Linked DNA regions of Homo sapiens. The protein of the gene in region 2 interacts with the protein of the main gene of each other region in a pairwise test. Each region holds a gene or a part of one and is shown on either strand. Other genes may lie near its edges.

What was found.
Region 1: the proteins of RAB10 (region 2) and MICALL1 interact in a two-hybrid assay, tested with the Homo sapiens proteins (one study listed by IntAct).

Annotation. Positions count from the first base shown.
Region 1 is NC_000022.11:37,914,364-37,926,669, reverse strand, and holds part of MICALL1 (MICAL-like protein 1), read right to left. Parts: intron 8,964-12,306; coding exon 8,875-8,963; intron 7,635-8,874; coding exon 7,492-7,634; intron 4,699-7,491; coding exon 4,244-4,698; intron 2,011-4,243; coding exon 1,953-2,010; intron 1,010-1,952; coding exon 627-1,009; intron 490-626; coding exon of another isoform or gene 473-489; exon of another isoform or gene 1-472. UniProt on the Homo sapiens protein: Lipid-binding protein with higher affinity for phosphatidic acid, a lipid enriched in recycling endosome membranes. On endosome membranes, acts as a downstream effector of Rab proteins recruiting cytosolic proteins to regulate membrane tubulation.
Region 2 is NC_000002.12:26,037,084-26,049,389, reverse strand, and holds part of RAB10 (ras-related protein Rab-10), read right to left. Parts: intron 1-12,306. UniProt on the Homo sapiens protein: The small GTPases Rab are key regulators of intracellular membrane trafficking, from the formation of transport vesicles to their fusion with membranes.

The DNA.
Region 1 (12,306 bases), on a different chromosome or scaffold from region 2:
TAGGGCCAAAAACCCAGCTCAGGGTATCAGAAGACTGGGAGAAGGTGAGGGCCAAAAACTCCAGCGTTCCTGGGTGAGGGGGGAAGCACTGGGCGGAGGAGGCCCAGCAGCCTGGAGCTGAGCCACCATGTCACATGGAGGACTACAGACAGACTCAGGGACAGTCAGAGTCATTACACCTGGTCACACATGGCCAGGTGAGAGCCCAGGTCGCTCAGGAACTGCAGCGACAGTGACAGAGTTAGGCAGGATTCAAGCAAACGCCTCCTTTCCATGAGCCCCTCGCTGCACTGAGCACACCACTAGACAGCACGTTTAACGAGCACGACAGGGAGGGTGAAGAGATGGACTCGGGCCAGACTCCGTGGGTTCAAATCCTGCCTCTCCTGCTTAAGCACTGAGAGGCTTTAGGCAAACTACTTAGCCTCTCTGTGCCTCAGTCTCCTCACCTGCAAAGTGGAGGTGACGATACCTACTCACAGGTTTGCTCTAGGATTAAATGAGAAGTCACCCATGAAACACGTGGTGCCTGGCCTGGTAGGCTCTGCCCCACCACACCCCCTCCCCAGGCCCGGGCCCCACCCCCGAGTTCCGACTGTCAGGAGAGCTCCAGGAAAGGCACTCACCCAGTGGGGACGCGCTGGGTGCGCGCGGGGCAGGGCGCTTCTTTGTCTTGGGGCTGCTGGTAGGGGTGATGCCGTACCAGGGGTGCAGGGACTTGGGTGTGGACTCCGGGTGGCCCAGGGCAGGGCTGGTGGCCAGGCTGGGTGCAGCTGGAGCCTCTTCCTCCTTGTCCTCCTCCTCCTCCTCAAAGGGGTTATAGGGTTTGGACTCCAGGCTGGCCGTTGGGCTCGGCTGGGCCACCTCCTCGGTGCCTCCATTCTCCACCTGCCTGCTGTCCTGGCTTGGTGGCCCCGGGCTGCTGCTTGGGGGAAGTGGGGCTGGCTTCTTCTTTGGTTCTGCCTGCACCAGCGTGATCCATGGGGGGTCCTTCCTGGGGGCTGGTGTCCTGGAGGAGGGGGGAAGCAGCAGAAACCATTAGCAGAGGCAAGGGTCAGCTTCCTTCTCTCTCTAGACAGTTTTGACTCTACTTCAAAGGGGGTGGATGAGAAACGGCTGTTTCCCTTCTCCCACCCCCATCCCCATGGGGACAGTCTGAAATGGAATGTTACAGTCACAGCCTTTGAGGCCCAGAGAATGTGAACCTTCAAGTCACAGAGCTGCTGTTAACCCAGCCCAGGAAAGGATCGACCAGGGGCTCTGCCACCTACAATCCATGTACCCTGGGAAAGTCACCTGCCCTCCCTCTGTATTAGTCTCCCTTTCCACTCAATGGGGACCTTAATAATCCTTGCCTCACAGGGTTGGTGTAAGGATGCAGTGAGCTATGGAGTGCAGCACTGGGCGGGGCACTGGGGCACCTGCTCAGTGCCAGGGACTCAGTAAACGTTAACAACTGGCACAGCCATGGCCCACCTGGCTCCCTACAGACCGACCACATGGGGGAAGCATGGCCCTCAAATAACAGCTGAAGTAGATGTCCTCCACGTGAAGCAGGGTCCCGTGCTGCAGGACCTGAGGGACTGGTACTACAGCTGAGCTTTTCCAGGTCTTTCTATACTCTGCTGCTAAGCCTCAAATCAACTCTATAATCAAGCCTCGGCCTCCCATGTTACAGGGCAAAGGAGCCTGGAGAGGCAACGGGTACCAGAGGTGGCTGCCTGCACCGGGCACTGCCCACAGGAGCAGGGACCTGGGGAGGGGGCCAGGCACTGGCCGCAGGAATCCCGGGGTGAGCCTCAGGAGAAGGGGTGTGGGCCCAGCTCTCCTTCCCCTCCTGAGCCCCGCCCTGCCCATCCACAGGAAGCCTCTCTCCCTACCCGGCCCCAGAGTACCCTGATTCCCACCACCAGGACCTCCAAAGCAGGAAAGCCCCTCAGGGATCGACATACCCCTCGGACGGCTTCGGTGTCCCCCTCGGCTTGGGGACAGGCAGTTCGTGCAGTCTCCCTAGATGGGAAAGGAGAGTGAGCCAGGCCTTCATGGGCAGCAGGAGGTGGGCACCCAGGGAGCCAGCCACAGCACCTGCCTCCCCAGGAGCGCCCCGCCTTCCTCCTGGCACCCTCGCACCTCCCCAGGCCAGCCCATGGAGATTAGATAAGCACCCAGGTGCCTGAGAACAGTCAGGGGTCAAGGCCAGGCCACCTGAGACCCCGTTTGCATTTCATTTGAGAAGAAACCCAAATCCCCTCAGACACCCCCCGCCAGTGTGGGCAGAAAACATCATCTCAAGTCAGCCTGGGAGCCACCTCCTCCTGGAAGTCCTGGACTCCCAAGTGTCCTCTGTGAATCCCACAGCAGCCCCTGCTCCCCTCCTTCCAACTTAGCAAGACTTCCACAATCCACTGAAACCCTTGCATCTGTGCCTGTCTCCACCTCAACACTGGGAGCACCCTGAAGGCACAGATAGGCCTGAACAGTAATCTGTGTCCCCAGCGGTCAGCTCAGATCCAGCCTCCACAAGAGCTGAACAAATAGAATGTTCTGGTGCAAGTCGCAGGGTGACCCTGGGAGTCTCTCTCCCCGTGGCCACCAATGCCTTCCCTAATGGAATGATAAGGGCTGCCCAGCAGCCTTATACAAGGAGTCTCAATCCTACAAGCTCACGGAAACCCAGGGAGGTCATCTGGGAGCATTCTACAATGTGGGGTTGGGGGAGAATGCACCCACAGAATGGGCCAGGGGTCTCCACTGCAGCTCACACTGGCTCCGGGGCCCACCTGACCCCTCTGCTCTCCCCCAAGCCCCTGAGCTCTCCCCTTCTAGACATAGACAAGCATAGAGGCTGGGCATGGAGGTCACCTGCAGTGTGCCTGTGGATGGGCCAGGACACACAGGAAGGACACCAATGTGCAGAGTCCCAGAGAGCTCGGGGACACACGGGCACATGCAGAGTGGCACTTACTACACACCCTGAAACTAAAGCCCACAAGAACAGATGCAAAAGAGCGCATGCAGAGGGAGGCAGTGTAAGGGCGGGGCCTGGGTCTGTATTGTTTGCACCGTCCCAGCATGGAGAACAGAGCACGGCAGAGGCTGCAGGAACTCGGCATTTGGGGCAGGAATTAATATCCTCAGAAACAGGCCAGGCATGGTGGCTCAGGCCTTAATCCCAGCACTTTGTGAGGCCAAGGCGGGCAGATCACCTGAAGTCAGGAGTTCGAGACCAGCCTGGCCAACATGGTGAAAACCCATCTCTACCCAAAAATACAAAAATTAGCCAGACATAGTGGTGTGCACCTGTAGTCCCAGCTACTTGGAAGGCTGAGGCAGGAGAATCGCTTGAACCTGGAAGGCAGAGATTGCAGTGAGCCGAGATTGTGCCATTGCACTCCACCTGGATGACAGAGTGAGATTCCGTCTCAAAAAAAATAAAAAGAGCCCGGCACAGTGGCTCATGCCTGTACTCCCAGCACTTTGAGAGGCTGAGGTGGGCAGATCACCTGAGGTCGGGAGTTTGAGACCAGCCTGGCCAACATGGTGAAACCTCATCTTTACTAAAAATACAAAAATTAGCCAGGCTGTGGTAGCCTGTAATCCCAGCTACTCAAGAGGCTGAGGCAGGATAACTGATTGAAGCCGGGAGGCAAAGGTTGCAGTGAGCCGAGATCGCACCACTGCACTCCAACCTGGGTGACAGAGTGGGATTCCATCTCAAAAATAATAATAATAGGCTGGGCACAGTGGCTCACGCCTGTAATCCCAGCACTTTGGGAGGCCGAGGCAGGCAGATCACCTGAGGTAGGGAGTTCAACACCAGCTTGACCAACATGGAGAAACCCCGTCTCTACTAAAAAAAAAAAAAAAAAAAAACAAAAAAAAACAAAACAAAATTAGCTGGGCATGGTGGCGCATGCCTGTAATCCCAGCTACTCAGGAGGCTGAGGCAGGAGAATCGCTTGAACCCGGGAGGTGGAAGTTGCAGTGAGCCGAGGTCAAGCCACTGCACTCCAGCCTGGGGGACAAGAGCAAAACTCCATCTCAAAAAAAAAAAAAAAAAAAAAAAAATATATATATATATATATATATATAATAACCTCAAAAACACAGGCAGGCCCCAACACAGCACAGCACACAATGGCACAGATGGAGAGGGGCCCACCAACACTCCCAGACACACAGACTTTTCAATAGACAGTGCACTGCCACCCGGTGCCCCCTGCCCTGACTGCACCCTGCTCACCGTTCACCAGGCTGCTGCTGCCAGCCTGCTCCACCAGGTTCTCCTGCTGCAGACTGGAGCGGGGCCGGGGCGTGGGGGGTGCTGGGGTGGTGCTCTCAGAGGCCTTCCTGGGGGCAGGGGTGGGGCGGCCCGCAGGGGGGCTGGCCAGCTCCTGTAGTTTGCCAGGAACCCGGGGCTTGGTAGGGATCTGCGGCCGGGCCTCAGGGCTGGCCTTGGGTCCATCGGCCTCAGCCCCTGCAGGAGCACTGGAGCTGGGGCCGCCTCCTGGAACATCCTTGGCATCTTCTGCGAGTTGCTGCTGGTGCTGCTGCTTTGGCTGTGAGAAGGGCCCAGGCCTGGTCCCCGACCGTGTCCCCGGGCCCAGCCTGGCACAGTGTTCTGCACACACAAAGGTGCCCTCCTCAGGCCCATTCTCATAAGCCCCAGGGAGCAGGGTGCTGGAGCACCGCCGACACCTGGCAGGGGACAGGACAGGGGTTCACTTAGCCAGGCAGCTGGGCCCAGGCACTGGCTACCCCTCCAGCCGCACCCAGGGCTGTCTCCTCCCTTCCCTCCTCCCAACTGCCAGCCAAGCTCGACTCCATACCCTAGACTTCCCAGAGGATAAAGAAAACAGTAACTGTCAGAAGCATAGTGGAACAATAAAATCACCAAATCACACGAACTCAGCAACAGAAATTGTGAAAAATGCCTTCAGTTTATGCTGCAAGAGGAAGAAGCAAAGGTCCCCCTGAGAGGTGGCATCCAGTGAGTGGCTGCATCCAGTAGTGGCTCAGGAAAATAAAGCAGTGGTTTTTACCCAATCAGGTGTTGTTTTGTGTTTTGTTTTCATTTTGTTTTGTTTTGTTTTTTTGAGATGGAGTCTCACTCTTGTTGTCCAGGCTGGAGTGCAATGGTGCGACCTTGGCTCACTGCAACCTCCGCCTCTCGGGTTCAAGAGATTCTCCTGCCTCAGCCTTCCGAGTGGCTGGGATTACAGGCATCTGCCACCACACCTGGCTAATTTTTTTTTGGCATTTTTAGTAGAGACGGAGTTTCACCAAGTCGGCCAGGCTGGTCTCAAACTCCCAACCTCAAGTGATCCACCTGCATAGGCCTCCCAAAGTGCTGGGATTACAGGTGTGAGCCACTACTTCCGGCTGTGTTTTGTTAATGAAATAGAATAAGATACAATGTATAAGACAGTATCATACAAGAAAGGCCAAATAGTGCTTTGTGAAACTCTTACTCCAGCTGTGCCTCTACTTACACAGTTTTATTTCAGGTAAATATTTACATCTAGTCACAGTGTCAAGTGTATTTTTTACTAGGAGTTGCTATAAAAAGTTTCTTTTTATTTTTGAGGCAGGGTCTCACTGTCACCCAGGTTGGAGTGCAGTAGTGCAGTCATAACTCACTGCAGCCTCAAACTCCTGGGCTCAAGTGATCCTCCTGCCTCAGCCTCCCAAATGCCTAAGACTACAGGTGCGTGCCACTACACTAGGCTAATTTTTTTTTTTTTGAGACGGAGTCTCAGTCTGTCGCCCAGGCCGGAGTGCAGTGGCGTGATCTCGGCTCACTGCAAGCTCTGCCTCCCAGGTTCACACCATTCTCCTGCCTCAGCCTCCCGAGTAGCTGGGACTACAGGCGCCTGCCACCACCATGCCCGGCTAATTTTTTTTGTATTTTTAGTAGAGACGGGGTTTCACCGTGTTAGCCAGGATGGCTTCGATCTCCTGACCTCGTGATCCACCCGCCTCGGCCTCCCAAAGTGCTGGGATTACAGACATGAGCCATTGCGCCTGGCCTAATTTTTTTTTTTTTTAATTTTTTTGTAGAGATGAAGTCTCATTATGTTGCCCAGGCTAGTCTTAAACTCTGGGCCTCAAGCGATCCTCCAGCCTCAGCCTCCGAAAGTGCTGGGATTATAGGCATGAGCCACCACCACACCCAGCTCCGGCCTGTAAAAAGTTTCTAAAACACTGCCCTGGTAGCCAGATGTGACTGTGTTGGTAGAGTCTGTTTCCTCCTCGAGATTTTTCCCCATGACACCCCAATTCTGCGGTCAGGTTCCAGGGTTCCAGCACCAGCTGCCCCCCACTCAGGGGCACACTCAACCAGATCAAGTGCGTGCTGCCACTCCCGGCTTCCTTGACTGTTCAATTTCCTCTTTTGGTTTCATTTTTGAAACATATAAAATGTTTCCATGAATTTTCTAAGTTTTTTTACTTTCCTTGCTGCTTATACCACTCTCTTAAAATCTGGCTTCCCTTGGAAGCCACATACTTAAAGCAAGTTGTTACTGTAATTTTTTAAAACTTCAAGCAGAACATGGTAGCACATGCCTGTAGTCCCGATTACTTGGGAGGGTAAGACAGGAAGATCACTTGAGCCAAGGAGGTTGAGACCAGCCTGGGCAACATAGTAGACCCATCTTAAAAGAAAAAAAGATTTTTTTTTTGAGACAGAGTCTCGTTCTGTCGCCCAGGCTGGAGTGCAAAGGTGCGATCTCAGCTCACTGCAACCTCCACCTCCTGGCTTCAAGTGATTCCTGCCTCAGCTTCCCGAGTAGCCGGGATTACAGGTGCCCACGACCACACCCAGCTAATTTTTGTATTTTTAGTAGAGATGAGGTTTCACCACGTTGATCAGGCTGGTCTCAAACTCCTGACCTCAGGGTGATCCACCTGTCTCGGCCTCCCAAAGTGCTGGGATTACAGGCGTGAGCCACCATACCCGGCCAAAAAAAAATTTTTTAAGCTAAAATATTTCATTTTATTTTTTCAATGGCCTTTTTTTTTTTTTTTTTTTTGAGACAGAGTCTCGCTCTGTCACCCAGGCTGGAATGCAGTAGCACGATCTCGGCTTCCTGTAACCTCTGCCTCCCGGGTTTGAGCGATTCTCCTGCCTCAGCCTCTCGAGTAGCTGGGATTAGAGGTGTGCACCACCATGCCCGGCTAATTTTCAATGGCTTTTAAAGTACACGTGGCTTTTAAAGTGCTCCTTCATCCTCATCCAGTAGTTATCCTCAAAAAGCGTAGGCGCTGGAAGGAAAACCCCTGTGCTCTAACCCTGTTTCTGTCTCGAATCATGTGGCTGAGCAACTGCTTTTCCCCTCACTAAGCCTTGGTTTGCTCATCAGTAAAATGGGGATAAGCCAGGGGCTCTGGTGTGAAGGGCCTGGCAAGGTGCCTGGCGCACTGTGTGTGCTGAACCCACGGTAGCCCCCTCCCTGGTTTCGGGGGTAACACGCGGCCCTGGCCACTCACCGGAAGCAGTGGCGATGGTACAGCCTGCCGTCAGCCAGGTAGCGCTGCACCAAGTGCACATGCTGCTGGCAGGCTGCGCACGTGCTGCTGGGGGTCTGGCCGGTGCCCTGCTCTGACAGGCTGCCTGAGGAGAGCTCCTCGCCCTGCAGAGAACGAGGTGGGGGAGGTTGGGAGCAGGACATGGTCACCAGCCATCCTGTTCACATCACTGCCCTCTCCCTCCCTCCAACGGCCACCGTCACTCAAGTGTGCACCAGGCTTCGTGGTGGAAATGGACTTCATCAGGGCCCCAGGAGGGGCAGAGGGCAGGAGGCTGCCACTGTCTCCCAGGTGAGGAAGCCAAAGCCCAGAACGGAGGAAAGCCTTGTTCAAGGTCACTGAGCCAGTGCGGAAACACGAAAATCCTGACTTCCGGTTTCTGAGGCTTCCCTCCCCAAAGGAAGGCAGCTCCTGGCTGTGCAGCCCCTTCCCCTTGGCGGCTCCTGCCCCCTCCTCCTCCCCTTTGCGGGGGAGCCCCCCTGACAGGTTCCTGTCCTCCCAGGCCGACCTCAGCTGCCTTTTCTGTTCTCTCCTAGAACTGCCACGGATTTAAATCCCAGTTTCTCTACATCCAAGCACAGTGAACCTGAGCAAGCTGCTCAAGTGTGGGCTTGGGTCCCACCTGCAGAATGAAACTGTATAACCCCTGCCAGCCTCAGCCCCATGTACCCTCATGGAGCACCCACCCTGGGGCTAGCTCCCTCCAGCAAAGAGCAGATGGGAGCAGGAGGGGAAGGCCCTTTACACACTGTAAGGTGCCGTCCAGATGTGAAGGGCTGGTGTCACTTCCTCTAAGCCCTTCAAACAGGTGACTGGCAGTTGGCCCCCACTTCCTTACTAAGTAACCTTGGACAAATGACTAAACCTCACTGAGCCTCAGTTTCCTCATCTGTATACCAGGGCCCATAATGCTGACCTCCCTGGGTTGTTGAGAGGATTAAAGGAAATCAAGCCGGGAAGTTTACAGCTGTCTCCACAGGAATCAAGGGGAATCTTTGCTTTACTACGTGTGTAACTCCTGACAGTCCCATGATGGTGAAGTCAGCATTGTGGACTGCCCTCTCTCCCCTTGCCAGAGCTGGCATCTCCTGACCCCACCTGAGTCCTGGAGAAGGAGGTAGGGCTCCCTGCCCATAGAACGGGACTGGCCTCCTGACCCATGCCTCACTGCCCCAGTCAGGGACACCTGTTCCCAAAGCCAATAGGGCAGGGACAGAGAACAAGCACCCTCTGAACACTGTCAGGGCTAACTTCCTCACATGACCCAGTCACTGCAATGATAGTCGTCCACATAACTCGCCCCCTCCACCCCTGGCCCTCCCACCTCTCCAGGTATCTGCCTACCTGAGCCACATCTTCTGGTTCCACTGGAGTGGGTGCTACAGACGGCGGGGAACAGGGTGCAAGGCCCTTTCTGGGTGGCGAGACACCAGCTGCCAAGAGATGAGAAAGGGGTCCTGAAGCAGGTGGAGATCCTGGAGTCCCAGGAGGTCCCAACCTGGCTGAAGATTTGAGACCTGTAGCCATCACCTAAAGGCAGACCACCTAATGCAGTGGGACAGGAGCTGGCTCCCGCTTCACACGGGCCCGGGGACGCTTCCAGTTTTAAGCCAAGTGCTGAGGGCAAGCCATGAACCTCACTGAACCTCCATCAAATGGGGAGAGTGACTCCTACTGCACAGAGCCAATCCGAACAATGGCGCAACAGTACGATCACAGAACACAGCACCCGCGTGTGGCTACACCAGCAGCTTCCCTGCCACCAGGGTAGAGGAGGTGAAGGAAAGGAAAAGAAAGGAACCATATGGTGCTGCCCTGACAGCTCAGGAAAGGCGCTGCCTCCTTGGGGTTGACAAGGAGCTGTCCTGCCTATCCCCAAGTGGGTATTGGGGGCCAGAACCCGGCCTGCACACCCCCTCACCAGAACAAACCCACCCACCCTGGGTTCCTCTAAGACTCAGCTCCTCAGGCCGGGCACAGTGGCTCACGTCTATAATCCCAGCACTTTGGGAGGCTGAGGTGGGTGGATCATTTGAGGTCAGGAGTTCAAGACCAGCCTGGCCAACATAGTGAAACACCATCTCTACTAAAAATACAAAAATCAGCTGGACATGGTGGTGCGCGCCTATAATCACAGCCACTCAGCCACTCGGAAGGCTAAGGCAGGAGAATCGCTCGAACCTGGGAGGTGGAGGTTACAGTGAGTTGAGATCGCGCCACTGCACTCCAGCCTGGGCAACCGAGCAAGACTCTGTCTCAAAAAAAGAAATAAATTCAATAACACTATGGTTGGTGCCAGGAGTGGCTCCAGCTGACTGGGGAGAGGCCCTTAGAAGCCACATGAAGAAGCTGGACTTCATCCTGACATTACTCCCCAACCCCTTTCTGATTTCCCACAGCCACTCGGCTTCCTTCACTCCTGCCCTGGCTCCCTGAGCAGGCTGCAGCTCCTCCAGGGTGGGGGTCTGTCTGTTGTGCCCGGGGTCACTGGCACCCACTGAGCGTGGTGGCACAGCTGAACACTCAGCACAGCACCACGACATCTCAGCCAGGGGCAGGCTCCAAACTTACCCAGTCTGGTAAAAAGTCAAGGCTAGTCAAAGTCACTCTTGAAATGCCTCCACTCGCCCAGAAAGTACAGTACAGGACCATCTGGGGGAGTCGAACAGCCAGCTTTGCCTCCAGAGTTGGAACACATCACTGTTTCCTTTGCTTAAGCAGCAGATGGGATAAAAATGGTTTGCATTTAGGGGCCAAGTTGTATGAAAGGCACAAACTGTACCTTTTCTTTTTTATTACAAAAGGCAGATTTATTAGAGAAGGTATGAAAATACATTGCGAGGCTGAAAATACAGGCAGCATAACAAAGGACTGTCTGCCACAAACTGTACCTTTATCAATGAGAATCCCTGCAGGGCGAGGGAGTGCCCATGCCCACACTCAGCACGGTAAGCTGTGCCCACCAGGGCTGCCCCTGCCCACCAGGCTGCCCAGAGAGGGCCAACGAATGAGCTGCGTACCACCAACAGCTGCCCACACCCCACCCACCCCGCAGAGTCCCAGAGATGAGCTCAGTAGAGAGAGATTCAGGTTTGGCCACAAGGAAGGCCGCAGGCTAAGGCTGAATTGCGATTCTAAGGAATCCAGCTAAACGCTAATCAGTGAAATAAGAAGTAGTAAGAATACTAATCTTGGCTGGGCGCAGTGGCTCACACCTGTAATCCCAGCACTTTGGGAGGCCAAGGTGGGTGGATCACTTGAGGTCAGAAATCCCAGACCAGACCGGCCATCATAGTGAAACCCTATCTCTACTAAAAATACAAAAATTAAGCCAGGCGTGGTGGTGCGCACCTGTAATCCCAGCTACTTGGGAGACTGAGGCATGAGAATCGCTTGAACATGGGAGGCAGAGGCTGCAGTCTGCCAAGGTTGTGCCACTGAGCTCCAGCCTGGATGACACAGCGAGACTCTGTCTCAAAAAAAAAAAAAAAAAAGAATACTAATCTAAATAGGTGCCAAACACTGGTTTATACATTTCCTCATTTACTCCTCAAGTCAACCCTGTGAGATGGGTGTTATTCCTATCCTCACTGCAAAAGGGAAACTGAGGCAGAGTGGTTAAATAACTGACCCATGGTCACCCAAAGAGGAAATGGCAGAGTGAAAATTTTGAGTCCATGCTCTTAACCCCAACCTTAGACTGCCTCTCACCAGAGCCTCTGGGGTCTGGAAATACTTTCATTTTGTTTTCTATTAAAATATACATAATGTTATTTGTTCAATTATTTTAATCCCTAGTGTTACATCAGGGGGAAGGGGTATAAGACATTATTTTAATTTTTCTGCTTTTGCCATGTTCTAAATTTTCTTGTTTATTTTTTCTGTTTAGGGATGGGGTCTCGCTCTGTTGCCCAGGCTGCAGTGCACTGGCGTGATCATAGCTCACCGCAGCCTCAAACTCCTGGCCTCAAGCAAACCTCCCATCTCAACCTCCCATGTAGCTAGGACTACAGGTGTGCCACCACTATGCCTGGTTAATTTTTTTATTTTTATTTTGGTAGAGACAGGTTCTTGCTATGTTGCCCAGTCTGGTCTCAACAGCAATCCACCTGCCTCGGCCTCCCAAAGTGCTGGGATTACAGGCATGAGCCACTTCACCCGGCTATTTTTTCTTTTTTTCCTAAAGTTATTTATTTATGGCTGGGCATAGTGGCTCATGCCTGTAATCCCAGCACTTTGGGAGGCCGAGAAGGGTAGATCCCTTGAGCTTAGGAGTTCAAGACCAACCTGGGTAACATGGTGATACTCCACCTCTACAAAAAATATAAAAGTTAGCTGGGTGTGGTTGCATGCACCAGTAGTCCCAGCTTCTCAGTAGGCTGAGATAGGAGGATCACCGCAGCCCAGGAAGGTTGAGGACGCATTGAGCTGTGATCATGCCACTGCACTCCAGCCTAGGCAACACAACAGAGTAAAACCCTGTCTCAAAAAAAATACACATATATGTGCGTGTGTGTGTGTGTGCGCGCACGCATATATACACATAATATATGTACATATATATGTATATGCATGTATATATATACATATATATATATAATGAAAGAAAAGATGGCTGGGTGCAGTGGCTCATGCCTGTAATCCCAGCACTTTGGGAGGCTGAGGTGGGTGGATCACCTGAGGTCAGGAATTCGAGACCAGCCTGGCCAACATGGTGAAACCCCGTCTCTACTAAAACTACAAAAATTAGCCGGGTGTGGTGGCGGGTGCCTGTAA
Region 2 (12,306 bases):
AGCGCAGTGTAAATTACGGCAAGAGTCAACCACTAAGTCCATTTTCATTCCTGTCAGGTCATACAGAATCTCTGAAATCTTGAGAACTCCTACATCATCTGATTAACTATATGAAATTAGGAGAGGGGAAAAGGCCTTCATATTAAATAAATGGTACGGGAGCAATCAGACATCCCTTCCACAAGCAAAAAAAAAAAAAAAAAGTCGACCTCCATCTAAACCCCCCACCATATACAAAAATAACTCAAAATAGGGTGTAAAATATAAAACTATAAAACTTTTAGGAAAACACAGAAGAAAATATTTGGGATCTATGATGGACAGAGTTCCTAAATACCAAAAGCATGATCCACAAAAAGAGAGGAAAGTCCAAAAGCATGATTTATAAATTGGACCGCATCAAAGTTCCAAATGTTTGCCCTGTGAAAGCCCATGTGAAGAGGATGAAAAGACAAGCTACAGACTGGAAGAAAATATCTGTAAACCACATATCCAACAAAGGACTAGAATTTTATTTTATTGTATTGAGATAGAGTCTCACTGTCGCCCAGGCTGGAGTGATCACAGCTCACTGCAGCCTCAACCTCCCTGGCCTCAGCTGATCCTCCCATCTCAGTCTCTCAGATAGCTGAAACTACAGGTGCACACCACCACATCCAGCTAATTTTTTTCTTTTTTGTAGAGATAGGGTTTCGCCATGTTGCCCAAGCTAGTCTCAAACAACTCACCCACCTAGGCCTCCCAAAGTGCTGGGATTACAGGTGTGAGCCACTGCACCTGGTCAAGACTAGAATTTTAAATGTACAAAGAATTCTCTAAACTCAACAGTTAAAAAACAATCCAATTAGAAAATTGGCAACCACATGAACAGACATTTTTCCAAAGATGGCAAATAAGCACATAAAAGGACTTTTCAACACCTTTGGCAATCAGGAAAATGCAAATTAAAAACCACAATGAGATTATCACTACACACTTATCAGAATGACTACAGTACAAAATAGTATGATAACATTATCAAATGCTGGTGAGGATGCAGAGAAAGTGCACTCATACACTGCTGAGGATGGGGGTGTAAAATGGTATAGCCATTCTGGAAACAGTCTGGCAGTTTCTTATAAAACGAAACATGCAATTACTATGTGACCCAACAATTGCAGTTTTGGGTGTTTATTCCAAAGAAACAAAAATTTATGATCACACAACCTGTACACAAAATATTCCTAGCAGCTTTATTCATATTAGCTAAAAACTAGAATCAGCCCAGATGTCGGTCAATGGGTAAAGATTAAACAAACTGGTACATACCATGAAGTATACTACTCAACAATTTAAAAAAAAAAAAAAAAAAACTAATGGGCCCGGCACGGTGGCTCACGCCTGTAATCCCAACACTTTGGGAGGCCAAGGCCGAGGCCGGCAGATCACCTGAGGTCAGGAGTTCAAGACCAGTCTGGTCAACATGGTGAAACCTCGTCTCCACTAAAAATACAAAAAAATTAGCTGGGTGTGGTGGTGCATGCCTGTAGTCCCAGCTACTTGGGAGGCTGTGGCAGGAGAATCGTTTGAACACAGGAGGCAGGGGTTGCAGTGAGCCAAGATTGTGCGACTGCACTCCAGCCTGGGCAACAAAGTGAGACTCTGTCTCAAAAAAAAAAAAAAAAAACAGGCCAGGCATGGTGGCTCACACCTGTAATCCCAACACTTTGGGAGGCCGAGGCAGGCAAGGCAGATCACCTGAGGTCAGGCGTTCAAGACCAGCCCGGCCAATGTAGTCAAACCCCATCTCTACTAAAAATACAAAAATTAGCTGGGCATGGTGGTGGGTGCCTGTAATCCCAGCTACTCAGGAGGCTGAGGCGAGGAGAATCACTTGAACCTGGGAGGCAGAGGTTGCAGTGAGCCGAGATTGTGCCACTGCACTCCAGCCTAGGCGACAGAACAAGACTCTGTCTCAATAAAAAAACAAACAAACAAACAAACAAAACAAATGATACACACAACTTGGATTAATCTCCAGGGAATTATGCTGAGTTGGGGGGTGGGGGGGAGCCAATCCCAAAAGGTTACATTCTATATGATTCCATTTATACAACATTTGTAAAATGACAAAATTTTAGAAATGGAGGACAGTTTCATAGTTACCAAGGTTTGGAGTGTAGAAATATCGGGAGGCTATAATTACAAAAGAACATGAAGGGTCCTTGTTCCTTGGAACTGTTGTATATTGACTATGGTGGTGGATACATGAACCTATGAATGACAAAATTGTACCAAATTTCATATACACACAAATGAATAAAAATAAAACTGGGGAATTTTAATAAGGCTGGTGTACTACACCAGATGTCAATATTCTGGTTGTGATGTTATAAAAATTTCCCAAAACTGCTACCATTGGAAGAAACTGGGCAAAGTATACAAGAGATCCCTTTGTATTACCTTTTACAACTGCATGAGAAATTACAATTATCTTAATAAAAATTTCAACTTAAAAAAAGTCTGTACAGAAGCATTGCTAATTATACGAAAGAAACAAATCAACACTGTCCTTTGTTCTAATTTTGATATGATGTACTTTTTGGGTCTCCAGAATAATGGTTTTTCCATTTTCTAATGTTTTAAACCTTGGAAGCTCTGTTTCTGGGTCGTATGTGAAACACAGCATTCTAGGCCAGGCGTGGTGGCTCCCACCTATAAATCCCAGCACTCTGGGAGGCTGAGGCAGGAGTACTGATTGAGCCTAGGAGTTCGAAACCAGCCTGGGTAACATGGCGAGACCCCATCTCTATTAATTTTTTTTAATCAACAGTAAATAATAAATAAAAAAAAGAAATGTAGCATTCCATTAATAGTTGCTGTTTTCCTCAAAAATATTATTTTTCAGCTCTGGAAAGAAGAATAAACATCAAGCAATCACTTATGCTTGCAACCCAAAATACACTGCACTGTCTTCAAATAAAAACGTTTTTCTCATTTCAGATTTCCCTTAAGACTGAGTTTTCTTCACTAAAATTTCATTTTAATCAACTTTTCAAATTCCTTTTCTTTTTTTTTTTTCTTTGAGACGGAGTTTCACTCTTGTTGCCTAGGCTGGAGTGCAATGACGTGATCTCGGCTCACCACAACCTCTGCCTCCTAGATTCAAGCAATTCTCCTGCCTCAGCCTCCCGAGTAGCTGGGACTACAGGCATGCGCCACCATGCCCAGCTAATTTTTGTATTTTTAGTAGAAACAGGGTTTCTCCATGTTGGTCAGGCTGGTCTCGAACTCCCGACCTCAGGTGATCCACCGGCCTTGGCCTCCCAAAGTGCTGGGATTACAGGCGTGAGCCACCGCACCGGGCCTCAAATTCCTTTTCTTACAGTCCAAATTTAATGAACTAATTTCATAAACCCTCAATTATTCATCTATTTGAAGGACCCACCTCTATGACCTTTACAAGACTTTTAGTCTTCTGGGTTCAGATGTCCTGTTAACCTCAACATCCTTTGTAATCCTTTAAACTCTTTTTTTATATATAAAATAAAGTTTTAAAAAGCTGGCCTTGGTGGCTTTAGAGGCTGAGGCAGGAAGACTGCTTGAGCCCAGGAATTTGATCCAGTCTGGGCAACACAGCAAGACCCTGTCTCTACAAAAATCAAATCAAATAAAAATGAAACTCCTCCTTTATGACTTAACCATCTCAATAAACAGTTTTCCCAGGCAAATCTCTTCAGCTAATCATACAATTTATATTTTGTGCTAAATAATGGTCTCTTACTTGTAAATCAACACTCAACAAGCTCCTACTCCTTCGTTCTTCACAACTGCTACCACAGCTCTGCCTGGGCAACCTTCTACTGTTAGACGGCCGGGCGCGGTGGCTCACGCCTGTAATCCCAGCACTTTGGGAGGCAGAGGCGGGCGGATCATGAGGTCAGGAGATCGAGACCATCCTGGCTAACACAGTGAAACCCCGCCTCTACTAAAAATACAAAAAATTAGCTGGGCGTGGTGGCGGGCGCCTGTAGTCCCAGCTACTCAGGAGGCTGAGGCAGGAGAATGGCGTGAACCCGGGAGGCGGAGCTTGCAGTGAGCCGAGATTGTGCCACTGCACTCCAGCCTGGGCGACAGAACGAGACTCTGTCTCAAAAAAAAAAAAAAAAAAAGTTGAAAGAGATTGCCAGTATTTCTCTTATTAGCCTCTCCCTTTTGCAAACAAAACGAGAATACCAGTATTTCCTTTGCCATGCTTGTGCGTCATTATACACCACAATTCTTGAAAAGAAACATCATCGGCTCTTCTCTATTATGCGCTAAGATGGCAAAGGACAAGTAACCCGAACAAAATCCTTGATATTTTATTCTAAGACTTGTTACTTACCTATTCGTGCCCCTCCAAAAAAAAAAAACAAAAACAAAACCACAGCAACTCTACTTTTCAAATTGAAATTGATGAGCAGGAAAACTATCACTGATTTTTTTTAACATAACAATGAAATTCTCAGAATGAGCAATGTGGTTATGAATAAGATTGGCTGTGGATTCTAATAAAAACTCCTGGCGGGGCGCAATGGCTTACACCTGTAATCCCAGCACTTTGGGAGGCCGAGGCAGGTGGATCACCTGAGGTCAGGAGTTTGAGACCAGCCTGGTCAACAGGGCGAAACCCTGTCTCTGCTAAAAATACAAAAATTAGCCAGCAGTGGTGGCTCATGCCTGTAATCCCAGCTACTCGGGAGGTTGAGGCAGGAGAATCATCTGAACCCGGGAGGTGGAGGTTGCAGTGTGCCAAGATGACGCAACTGCACTCCAGCCTCGGGAACAAAAGTGAAACTCTATCTCAAAAAAAAAAAAAAACTAATTAGCCATGTGGCCTTTTGGCCTTCTGGAAGTTACTTCACCTCACCAGTCTCAGTTTTCCCACTTTGAAAATTCATTTAAGGGTTCATTCCTGCACTAACATTCTGTGATTCTAACATTCCAAGAAGGTCTATGCAAATACAGACAACAAAAAGACAAATCTGCCTTCAACAACTGAAAGTACAGACCAGTGATATTAAAGCATGGGAAAGTACCATAAAGGATCCTCTTGATTCACAACCACTGGTTAACAGTAGCTAACACCTGGAACAGGAGGGGCCGTCTGTGATCAAATGCTCTTTTAGAGAACTGGGTCGAGTGTTAGTTTTTTGGGTTTTGTTGAGCGGTGGGGAAAATATATCTAAAACATTTACCATTTAAACCATTTTCTAAAACATAACATTAAATTTGCCATCTTAACCATTTTTAATGTGTACAGTTCAGTAGGTGTTAAGTGTATCACACCATTGTGCAACAGATCTCCAGAGCCTTTTCATTCTGCAAAACTGTAATGCGTTGTTTTATACTCATTAAACACCTTCCTATTTCCCTCTTCCCCAGCCCCTGGTAATCACCATTATTTCTGTTTCTATGAATTTGACTTTAGATAGCCTCATATTCATATAAATGAAATCACATAGTATTTGTCTTTTCATGCATTTCAAACATTTTTAAGTGTACAATTCATTGGCATTAAATTAATTCACACTGTTATACAACCATCAACACTATTCCTCTCTGGAACTTTTTCATCCTTCCAAACTAAAACTCTGTGATCATTAAGCAATAACTCCCCATTACTCTGTCCCCCAGGCCCCAGTAACCACTATTCCACTAATTTTGTCTACTATAGGTACCTCACACATTATTTGTCCTTTTGTGTCCAACTCATTTTACTTAGTAAACTATTTTCAAGGCGTATCCATGTGGTAGCATGTTAGAATTTCCCTCCCTTTTAAGGCTGAATAATATTCCATTCTATGTGTATACCACATTTTGTTTATCCATTTATCCACTGATGAACATGTGAGTTGTTTCCACCTTTCAGCTATCGTGCATAATGCTACTATGAATGCTGGTGTACAAATAGCTGTTTGAGTCTTTTTTGTTGTTGTTTGTTTTGAGACAGGGTCTTGCTCTGTCATCCAGGCTGGAGTACAGTGGCATGATCATCAGCTCACTGCAACCTCCGCTTCCCGGGTTCAAGTGATCCTCTCACCTCAGCCTCCCAAGCAGCTGGTACTACAGGCATGCGCCAACATGTACAGCTAATTTTGGGGGGTTTCTTGGTAGAGACAGGATCTCACCATGTTGCCCAGGCTGGTCTTGAACTCCTGAGCCCAAGTAATCTGGCCTCCTAAAGTGCTGGGATTTACGGGCATAAGCCACCTTGCCTGGCCCTGTTTGAATCTTTGATTTAAATTATCCTGGATATAACTCGAAGTGAGATCACTAGATCATATGGTAATTTCATTTTTAATTTTTTGAGAAACCACCCTATTGTTTCTCACTGTGGCTGCACCATTTCACATTCCCACCAGCAATGCACCAAGGTTCCAATTTCTCTACAACCTCATCACTTGCTTTTGTCGTTTGTTGTTGTTGTTATAACTATCCTAAATGGTCGCAAAGTAACATCTCACTGTGGTTTTGATTTGCATTTCCCTAATTATTAGTGATGCTGAACATCTTTCCATATGTTTATTGGGCATCTGCTTAGCTTCTTTGGAGAAATACCTACAGAGGTTTTTTTTTTTTAAATAGTAATTATGAAACAATTCACAAATTTGCGTGTCATCCTTGCGCAGGGACCATACTAATCTTCTCCATATCCTTCCAATTTTAGTATATATGCTACCGAGACAAGCACTCTGGATGGTCTTTTGGGGTTTTTTGTTTAAGACAGAATCTCACTCTGTCATCCAGGCTGGAGTGAGATGGTACAATCATAGCTCACTGCAGCTTCAAACTCCTGGGCTCAAGTGATCCTCCCATCTCAGCCTCCTGAGTAGCTGGGACTACAGGTGTACACCACCGCACCCAGCTAATTTTTTATTTAAAAGCTTTTTTTTGTAGAGATGGGGTCTCGCTAAGTTGCCCAGGCTGGTCTCGAACTCCTGAGCTCAAGCTATCCTCCTGCCTCAGCCTCCCAAAGTGTTGGAAATACAGGTGTGAGCCACAGCACCCAGCCTAATCAATCATTTCTTAAATGCAGGTTAGTGGAACCAACCTACTCTTCCAAAACTTAGCAAAATCATCCTGACAACAAAATGTATGTATTATACCTCTCTTAGGGACAAGAGCCTTTACCAACTTGATTTCTTACATGGAGCCGAGAGACTCCAATTCCCAGTGAAAAATATTCCCTGTTAAAAAATGAGTAAGCCTGTGGTGGAGAAAGGATTAATGACACCAAAAGGTAGCACATCCAGTATAGAAGCAGCCCACTAAAAGCTTGTGCTTTGGGGACAAATCCATGTAATTCCCACATCACTAATAAGTAACGCATTCCTGAGCTCATACTACCAAGATGGTTATGGTCAAATCAACCACTGAAATCTTCTCATCCAAAAGCAGTAACTCTCTTAAGCCTATTTTTCAAACAACCTTTCAATTTCTCTTTTTCTTTTCTTTTTTTTTGAGACAGAGTTTTGCTCCTGTTGCCCAGGTTGGATTACAATGGCACGATCTCGGCTCACCGCAACCTCCGCCTCCCTGGTTCAAGCGGTTCTCCTGCCTCAGCCTCTAGAGTAGCTGAGATTACAGGCATGCGCCACCACGCCCAGCTAATTTTGTATTTTTGGTAGAGACAGGGTTTCACCATGTTGGCCAGGCTGGTCTCGAACTCTGACCTTAGGTGATCTGCCCGCCTCGGTCTCCCAAAGTGCTGGGATTACAGGCGTGAGCCACCAAACCCAGCCCCAACCTTTCAATTTCTAAGAGCAGTCTTGCCCTATTAAGCCAAACAGCTAACATTCTTTTTTTTTTTTTTTTTTTTTTTGAGTCAGCGTCTCACTCTTGTCACCCAGGCTTGAGTGCAGTGGCACGAGCTCAACTCACTGCAACCTCCGCCTCCCGGGTTTAAGCAATTCTCCTGCCTCAGAGCCTCCCAAGCAGCTGGGGCAACAGGCACACACCACCATGCCTAGCTAATTTTTGTATTTTTAGTAGAGACGGGGTTTCACCATGTTGGCCAGGCTGGTCTCAAACTCCTGACCTCTGGTGATCCACCTGCATTGGCCTCCCAAAGTGCTGGGATTACAGGCATGAGCCACTGCGCCCGGCCACAGCTAATATTGGTAAGTCTGATCCCAATCTACTTCATATAATGATCAGAAAGTAGGTAAAAAGGAAAAATTTTACATAAACTACCCCCAATTCATATTAAGGGGATCCTGATTGTACCACCTGTCTGCCTACCTGCCTGCCTTCATTCATTATTTATGGTGCACCCATTAAATGCAGGTACCCTTCCAGGTGTTTAGCACACATGAGAAAAAAAAAAAAGACAAAGATTTCTGCCTTTGTGCAACTTATATTCTGGTGCCCTTGGATTCGTTTTGAGATTGGTTGAGTGTACCATACCAGTAATTTGTTTTTTGCAGCAGTCTCCAATAAATCTGACCATAAATACAATACATAATTTCTAATACGGATGTATGAGAATTGAAAATATATAGAAAAATTCAAATACAGTAGTCTTTGTGAACACCATCCTATAAATCTATAAAAATTATTTCTTCAAAAAACCATAGCCAATAAGAAACTTAAATGACTGCACCTGAAATAATGAGGGCCTGCCTTATTTTGGCAGTCAGGTCCTTCTGAACACCTGCAAGATAACTACTTCTATACAAACCTCTGGATGTTTTCTGTTTTTGTTTTATCATACACGGTCTCGCTCTGTCACCCAGGCTGGAGTGCAGTGGTGTGATCCGAGCTCACTGCACCTTTGAACTCCTGGACTCAAGTGATCCTCCCACCTCAGCCTCCCCTGTAGCTAGAACTACAGGAACATGCCACCATGTCCTGCTAATTTTTTGTTTTTGCAGAGATGGGGTCTATGTTGCCCAGACTGGTCTCAAACTCCTGACTTCAAGTGAACTTCCCAACTCAGCCTCCCAAAGTGCTGGGATTACAGGTTTGAGCCACCACGCCCAGTCCTCAGGATGTTATAGATTCTCTATAAATCATTTATAGAGAATGCTCTAGATTTTAAAAACAACACAGCCAGACGCGATGGTGCTCGCCTGTAGTCCCAGCTACGTGAGAGGCCGAGGAAGGAGGATTGCTTAAGCCCAGGAGTTCGAGGCTACAGTGAGCTATGATTGCACCACTGCACTCCAAGTTGGGTGACAGAGTGAGATTTAATCTTTTAAACAACAACAAGAAACCCTCATCACTTAATAACATTTAACACATTCCTGAAAGTAGTCTACATTCAAAGTATTTCTAGTCATCTGCACGTTGACCAACTGGCTACTTTACATTGTTTAGACACATACCATCCAGTATGGTAGCTACAAGCCACATGTAGCTATTAATCACTTGAAATATGCCTCTTTAAAATTTATTTTTTCATTACATAATATACATCCATGTAGAAATACGCCTAATCTGAGATGAGTTGTAAGCATAGCTTACAAACCAGAGAAAAAGAATGTGAAATATCTCAACAATTTTAATTTTTTTTTCATACAGACAGGGTCTCACTATGTTGCCCAGGCTGGTCTTGAACTCTTGGGCCCAAGCAATCCTCCCACCTAGGCCTGCCAAAGTGCTGGGATTACAGGTGTGAGCCACTGAGCCTGCCCTCAACAATTTTTAAATCTTGATCACACAATAAAGTAACATTCTAGATATGAGTTAAAATATATTATTAAAATTTACTTTTTAGGCCAAGTGTGGTGGCTCACGTCTGTAATCCCAGAACTTTGGGAGGCCGAGGTGGGTGGATCACCTGAGGTCAGGAGTTCTTGACCAGCCTGGCCAACATGGCAAAACCGCATCTCTACTAAAAATACAAAAAAATTAGCTGGGCGTGGTAGTGGGTACCTGTAATCCCAGCTACTAGGGAGGCTGAGGCAGGGAGAATTGCTTGAATCTGGGAAGTGGAGGTTGCAGTGAGCCCAGATCGCGCCACTACACTCCAGCCTGGGCAACACAGTGATACTCCATCTCAAAAAGAAAAAAAATTTTTTTACTTTTTAAAATGTGACTATTTGGCCAGGTACAGTGGCTCATGCCTGTAATCCCAGGATTTTGGGAGGCCAAGGTGGGCGGATCACCTGACGTCAGGAGTTCAAGACCAGCCTGGCCAACATGGTAAAACCCTGTCTCTACTAAAAAATTCAAAAATTAGTTGGGCATGGTGGCACACGCCTATAATCCCAGGTACCTGGGAGGCTGAGGCAGTAGAATTGCTTGAACCTAGGAGGCGGAGGTTGCAGTGAGCCAAGACTGCACCACTGCACTCCAGTCTAGGCAACAGAACAAGACTCTATATCTTAAAAAAAAAAAAAAAAAAAAGTGGCTATTAAAAGTAATATATGTGGCTCACATTATTTCTTTTGAACGGCACTGGTTAAACGCAATGGTAGATTTTTTTTTTTTTTTTTTTGAGACAGAGTCTCGCTCTGTTGCCCAGGCTGAAGTGCAGTAGTGCGACCTCGGCTCACTGCAAGCTCCGCCACCTTCTGGGTTCATGCCATTCCCCTGCCTCAGCCTCCCGAGCAGCTGGGACTACAAGCGCCCACCACCACGGACAGCTAATTTTTTGTATTTTTAGTAGAGACGAAGTTTCACCATGTTTGGCAGGATGGTCTCGATCTCCTGACCTCGTGATCCACCCACCTCAGCCTCCCAAAGCGCTGGGATTATAGGCGTGAGCCATCGCGCCCCGCCCAATGGTATTTTAAACCTGTGCACAGAGCTAATACATGTATGTGTTCAAGCTGTACTCAGAATCATTTATTTTCTCAACTTACACTATTCAACATCTTATATGTGAAAACATTTTTACCTGAAAGTATGAAAATGTCAGAGTCTAGGCTGGGCGCAGTGGCTCATGCCTGTAATCCCAGCAGTTTGGGAGGCTGAGGCAGGTGGATCACCTGAGGTCAGGAGTTCAAGAGCAGCCTGACCAACATGATGAAACACCACCTCTACTAAAAATACTAAATTGGCCAGGCGTGGTGGTGCGCACCTGTAATCCCAGCTACTCAGGAGGCTGAGGCAGGAGAATCGCTTGAACCTGGGAGGCAGAGGTTGCAGTGAACAGAGATTGTGCCACTACACTCCAGCCTGAGCAACAAAAGCGAAAATCCATCTCAAAAAAAAAAAAAACAAACAAACAAAGGAGGGCAGTGTGGTGGCTTCCGCCTGTAATCCCAGCACTTTGAGACGCTGAGGCGGGCAGATCACCTGAGGTCAGAAGTTCGAGACCAGCCTGGCCAACATGGTGAAACCCCGTCTCTATTAAAAATACAAAATTAGCCAGGTGTGGTGGCATATGCCTGTAATCCCAGCTACTTGGGAGGCTGAGGCAGAAGAATCACCTAAGCCTGGGAGGCGGAGGTTGCAGTGAGCCGAGATCACACCATTGCACTCCAGCCTGGGCAAAAAGAACGAAACTCCGTCTCAAAAAAAAAAAGAAATTGTTTAGTGGAGCACCAACAAATACTTGGGTACCACGGTGTGCAGGATGTTCAATCCATAAAATAACATGTTCTGCCACACCTCCACAGCAGAAGAGTCACATATTCTATATATAGCTAATATGCACTGTGCTCCTACAAAGTGCCTGGTCCTGGCACCATGTGAAGTGCTTTACTCTCACTAACCCCTAAAATCCTCACAACTACCCTATGTGGTAGATATTATGATTGACACTTTTTTTTTTTTTTGAGACAGAGTTTCACTCTTGTTGCCCAGGCTGGAGTGCAATGGCACGATCTCGGCTCACCACAACCTCTGTCTCCCGGGTTCAAGCGATTCTCCTGCCTCAGCCTCCTGAGTAACTGGGATTACAAGCATGCGCCACCACGCCCAGATAATTTTTGTATTTTTAGTAGAGACAGGGTTTCTCCATGTTGATCAGGCTGGTCTCGAACTTCCGACCTCAGGTGATCCGCCTGCCTCGGCCTCCCAAAGAGCTGGGATTACAGGAGTGAGCCACCGTGCCCAGCCTTAACACTCTTAAAGAGCCTGAAGCCGACAGAGGTTAAGTAATCTGCCAAAGTTGCACAGCTAGTAACCTGTGGAAACAAGATTCCAACCCAGCAGACTTGATCCAAAATCATCACACATCTTCCCAAGTAAAAGGGCTACAAAAAGATTATACCATTATCTTACAGGATTGAGTTTTAGTTGGGGGCATGCACCCTTTACAAAAAGATTGGAGTAGACAGAGTTAATGTTTTGCTTCCTACTCCACACTGTTCCTAAGGATAGGTTAAAGTT